Linked DNA regions of Homo sapiens: region 2 is linked to region 1. The links come from fine-mapping of genetic effects on gene expression. Tissue or cell type: subcutaneous fat. Region 1 holds a variant in brackets; the other region holds the start of a gene. All regions are shown on one strand. Distances are between the middles of the regions.

Region 1 (2,756 bases):
CCCCTGGCCGGGGGCATCTCCTGGCTGTGCTCCTGGCCCTCCTTGGCACCGCCTGGGCAGAGGTGTGGCCACCCCAGCTGCAGGAGCAGGCTCCGATGGCCGGAGGTAAGGGACACCTGGTGAGGAGGTAGGTGGAGGCACCATTACGAGCTCTGAGGAGTGGGTGCTAGGAGACTTCTGGAAGCCCGGTCCCAGGCCTGAGCCCCAGGCCGTGCGGGTGGTTTAATGAGGAAGCCCTGGGACAGCCCGGGGGCGGTGAGGGGTGGATGCTGGACTGGGGAGGAAGGAGGAGGAAGGAGGACCAGGGCTGGGGTCAAGGAGGAACGCCGAGGGGCGCTGTGGCTGGGGCCTGGAGAAATCCGTGGCCCGGAGGAGCCCCAGACAGGGGCCTGCGGGAGCCAGGGCTGGCCCCTACACCCAGCCCGCACCGCTGTTCCCTCCCGCCACCCCAACCCCAGCACTCAGCCCACGCCTGCTGTACCTGGTCTCTCTCTCAGCCTCGCTCCATTGCTATGCCCCACGTCCCCTGCACCCACCACACTCCTCTCCCATCTTGTTTTCCAAGGGCAGGGACACATGCTTATTCTGCCGTGTGTTGGGTTCAGGTCCCCCCATCCTCGGGCTGCCTGACCTTCTCTCCCCACCCCAGCCCTGAACAGGAAGGAGAGTTTCTTGCTCCTCTCCCTGCACAACCGCCTGCGCAGCTGGGTCCAGCCCCCTGCGGCTGACATGCGGAGGCTGGTGAGTACCCGACCCAGCTGGGCTCTGCCAGGGGGGTGGCCGGAGGCGCGGACCCCAGAGGGCGGCTCAGGAGGCCACGCCTGTCCAGGTGCCCTTCCACTTGACCAGGGTGGGCAGGCACAGCCAGCCACCTTGTCCCTGAGGGACGGAGGCCCTGGTTGCTGGGGGTCTCTGCAATTTCTTAACCCCCCACCCTCAGTTCAGGAGGTCGGGCCCCTTGGCTCCCACTCGCCTGAAGGGCAGGACCTTGGGCCTTCCCTGGCATCTTGTTGTCACAGAGACCAGGAGCCACAGGAGGAGCCGGATCCCCTCCTCCAGGGAAGGGGAGCTTCACGAGGAGCCCTGCAGGATGGGCGGCCGGGCCAGGGAGGGAGAAGGTCGTGCTGGGCTGGGGAGGGGCTTCTGTGCGGCAAGGACCCAGCGCCTCCTCCTGAGCTTATCTGAGCCACGAGGACGGGCCTTGCCCATGTTCTCTGCTCACTCACTCGTCCACATTTTCCACATTTTCAGCAGGGGCCGGGGGTCGGGGGTATAGAATTCCCCACCAGCCCGGCTGGGGCTGCGGGGTTGGGACTGTCATCTGGAGGCTCAGAAACGCTGCCCCCCCTTGTCTGGGACCCCAGCAGCCCCAGCCCATGTTAGCAGGCCAGGGAGCCAGGGCAGGGTGGTGGGGGCGGGAGGGTTCCCCATGGCTGCTTCCCATGAACTCCTCCAAGGCAGGCGGCCAC[A/G]GTGGCGACCTTGAGCACTCTAGGGTCAGTTTCCCAGGAGGTGGGGGTGGGGTGGCTAAATGCGGGGGGTCGCTTCTCCCCGATTCCCAGCCCTGAGTGGCTCTGCCTCTCCTCAGGCTCAGACCCTGGGCAACCAGGGGTGCTCCCAGCTGTGACCTCCGTGGTTGGGTACTCCTGCCTGGGACCCCAGGAGGGGCTGCGGTGGTCGTTGGCTGGCAGCTGGCACCCTTTCCAGGGCCCTTTTGTCAAAGTCCTAGAAAACTTCATTTCCGTAAAGGTGCAAATGGAGCTCCATGGCTCAGCCTCCCTCGTGGCCCGGCCCCGAGCACCCTCCGGGCCTCTAGGGCTCCAGGGCACCCCCTCTTTGGACACAGTGGAGACTGAAGGTCTTGTGGGGGTGGAGGGCTGCTGAGGGACCCCGGGGAGCCCCCAGCTCCTGGCCCCAGCCTTCATCAGAGGTAAAACCCCGATGGACATTAGTGCAGGATGAAGTTGGCTTGGGGTGCAGCCCCGAGGGGCCCCCCTCCCTGCATCCACTCAGTGCTTGTGAGTCCTATCCTGCAGGCACCTCCCTGCTCCGTTTACAGATGAGCTCAGGGAGTCTCGGGAGATCAGGGGACTGCACCAAGTCACCCAGGGGTGGTGATTGCCAGGCCCACTTGTTTAAGAAGAGGGAGGGGGCTGGGCACGGTGGCTCACACCTGTAATCCCAGCACTCTGGGAGGCTGACACAAGCAGATCACCTAAGGTCAGCAGTTTGAGACCAGCAATGGCCAACAGTGAAACCCCGTCTCTACTAAAAATACAAAAATTAGCCAGGCGTGGTGTCACATGGCTGTAATCCCAGCTGCTTGGGAGGCTGAGGCAGGAGAATTGCTTGAACCTGGGAGGCGGAGGTTGCAGTAAGCCGGGATTTCTCCACTGCACTCCAGCCTGGGCGACAGGGTGAGACTGTCTCAAAAAAAAAAAAAAAAAAAAGAAGAGGGAGGGGGCGGGGTCAGCTGTGCGTGGTGGGGAGCATATGAGGCCGGGCTCCTGGGGGCAGGAGACTAGGGCAGAGAGGCGTGGCTGTAGGGCTTTTTGCATCACAGGAGGGCAGCATGGCCGGGTGGGAGCAGTGGAGCCTTTCTGACAATGGCCAGGGCCCAAACACAGAACCAGTCTGCAACGCGTGGGCACTGCTCACATGACCAGATGGGAGAAAGACAGCAGGAGCGGGTCCCATTGCCTGGGCAGGGCCGAAGGATGCCCACGACAGGATTTGGAGATGGAGGCTCAGTCGTGAGA
Region 2 (2,628 bases), 570 kb after region 1:
ATTTTGCTCTTGTTGCCCAGGCTAGAGTGTAATGGCGCTATCTTGGTTCACTGCAACCTCCGCCTCCCAGGTTCAAGCAATTCTCCTGCCTCAGCCTCCCGAGTAGCTGGGATTACAGGCATGCGTCACCACACCCGGCTAGTTTTGTATTTTTAGTAGTGATGGTTTTCACCATTTTGGTCATGCTGGTCTCGAACTCCTGACTCAGGTGATCCTCCCGTCTTGGCCTCCCAAAGTGCTGGGATGGCAGGCGTGAGCCACCGCGCCCCGCAAGATACTAAATTTTAAAACACATCTTGCTGAGGCCAGACAAAAAAAGCCCCACACACTAAACTAGCCAGGCACGGTGGTGTGCGCCTCTGGTTTCATCCATTCTGATTGCAGCACAACAGCACTCCAGCCTGCGCAACAGAGAGCGGCCCTGTTTCTAAAAATAACAAAACAAAACAAAAAACACCACACACATCTTGCTGAAAAACGTATCAGAAACTGCTAGAGTTAGTGCAAGTTTATACTTGAAAATACTCAAAGATATCAACGATCACCTCTCCCTCAGGCTGAAACTGCCTTTTGTGCTCAACTTTGCTAGAAGTTTGGTCTGGGAAACAGCTGACAAGCTTAGAGCTTAGATCTCTTTTGACTAGCAAGGAACCCAACTGACATTCGAAAGTGAATTGACAGCATCGAGTTGCCACTGAAAATTAAAGGAGGCAGGAAATAGAACGTTATGAACTGAAAGGAATTGGAGAATAGTCCACACCCCTCATTTGATAAAATATCAAGGGTACCAGAGATGAAGTGACTTGTCCAAGATTAGAGAATTGTGTCTGAGTCTTAAAAGCTAAACCTCTACAAAGATGTGCATTTGACCAAAACGCTAAAATCACACCCCCAAATCACTCCCCACAAGAGGAAGTCTTAAAACGCTTCAAGAAGTTAATCTGCAAAGGCTTCCCTCTTAAATAACAGGATGAGAGCGTTTCATAATTTGTAAATTAAGCCAATGCAAAAGGGCGCTTATTATTTTGAGAACCAAGCAATTTGGCAAATACTCTCAGACTAACTTTACTCCCGTGGAGAAACTGGTGATCATGGATCAGGGAAATCAACGGGGGTCTAGGGAGGAGAGGCTGCAGATCGCCCAGGTATCAGGGAAGACAAGCTCGGCGCGTCCGACAGCGTGAAAAGAGTTGACAGGACTACTCATATACCCGACTAGCTTCCGCTTCTTTGTTTTCCCGCTTTTTTGTATCCCCCAGCAAGGAGAGTTTCCCACAGCCCGGATTTCCCGACTGAAGGCTCCCACTCTCCCTAGATCCTCCATGAAAAAGAAGAGGCTCGACCCCGCACCTCCTCGCCGCAGAGCCGTTCGTATACAGCCTCCAGCTCCTGCAGCTCTGTCAGGGAGCGAATGAGCTCAGCGGAGATTTCGGAGCAGCGGCCACCTCCCACCCCCTCAGACGGCTGCTGCACCCCTGACAGCTTCGGAGGCGAATCAAGGTCCGCCATCTTGGTCCCCATTCGGCACTTCCGGTCCCGCGAGGCCCCCTCTTCGTTGGCGCCTATTTGGGGCTGCCCACAGAAGTGCCCAATGAACTCTAATGGTTTTTTTTTTTTAAAGTCTACTTCTAAAAACGTATTAATTTTCTATTCTCCTGGAAAAAGCAAAGCAATAAAGCATGTTTAAATAATTTGTAATGCCGTGTGGAAGCAAGACGGAAGCATTTTTTAAAAATTATATATATTCTTCAGGCGCGGATTGGGTGCCTTTTTCCGCCGCGCGCCACCAGAATGTCCCTGTCTTGAGGTCTAATGGCGGACGCCAGTATGTTGGAGTTGGTGGTGGCTTAAGTTTTGAAGGGAGGTAGCATCCGTTGGATATCCACACCATCCTTCTCGCTGCAGGGTAAAAAAACAGCCTGGAGACTTCCCCGGGCCCGGGGAGGCGGAGACCGGCCATATGGAAGGGGGACCCGAGACTTTGGCGGGGGTCACGGGCAGTCTAGGCCCGAGAGGCTGGGGACCAGGAGGAGGTACCGAGGGATGGTTGAGGCGCCAAAACGGCTTCCTGCAGTTATCTCTCGCTTCCATCCACAGTGTGGGAACATATTCTATCTCAAAATAGGGCTCGTGGAGATTGCTTTTAACTTCTGGGGACTCTGAGACGGGGGAGGTGTGACAAGCAGCGGGAGGCATGGATGTCTCCCTCTGGGTAGAGTAAATGGTACACCGAGGGGAAGATAGAAAGATGGAGCGTGTTAAAAGCGTAAATAACGGAAACAGTCTTTAGAGCCAAGACTCCGGTTTGAATTTGTATTTTGGTAGTTGGGCAACTTGTCTCCTCCTCTGAACCTCTATTTTCTCGTTTGCGTAATGGAGGACAGAGTTTAAATGCGATGATGTTTCCTTGGAGGATGGAGAAGATGCAGTGAGCAATCATACAAGCTTTTTGTAATAATGGTAAACAGACGTGGGGGAAGTTTTTTTTGTTTTGTTTTGTTTTGTTTTTGTGACGGAGTCACAGTCTGTCGCCCAGACTGGAGAGCAGTGGCGCGATCTCGGCTCACTGCCATCTCTGCCTCCCGGGTTCCAGCGATTCTCTTACCTCAGCCTCCCGAGTAGACTAGC

Evidence for each region. PIP is the estimated chance that this variant, and not a neighbour inherited with it, causes the effect.
Region 2: it holds the start of COG4, and the variant in region 1 is fine-mapped to the expression of COG4 in subcutaneous fat (GTEx, PIP 0.99).

The regions. Positions count from the first base shown.
Region 1 is chr16:69,951,386-69,954,141 of GRCh38, forward strand. CLEC18A (C-type lectin domain family 18 member A) reads left to right here. Exons shown (of 12, transcript NM_001370523.4): 1 at 1-105; 2 at 650-741. Among named protein-coding and RNA genes, the nearest start is that of CLEC18A, 1.4 kb to the left of the region's middle. RefSeq lists an enhancer at 1,109-1,722. The variant A/G (reference allele first, on the strand shown) is at 1,470.
Region 2 is chr16:70,522,023-70,524,650 of GRCh38, forward strand. It overlaps COG4 (component of oligomeric golgi complex 4), which reads right to left and starts at 1,532. Exons shown (of 19, transcript NM_015386.3): 1 at 1,351-1,532. The coding sequence starts at 1,521. SF3B3 (splicing factor 3b subunit 3) reads left to right here and starts at 1,794. Exons shown (of 26, transcript NM_012426.5): 1 at 1,794-1,906. RefSeq lists enhancers at 1,165-1,304, 2,338-2,628.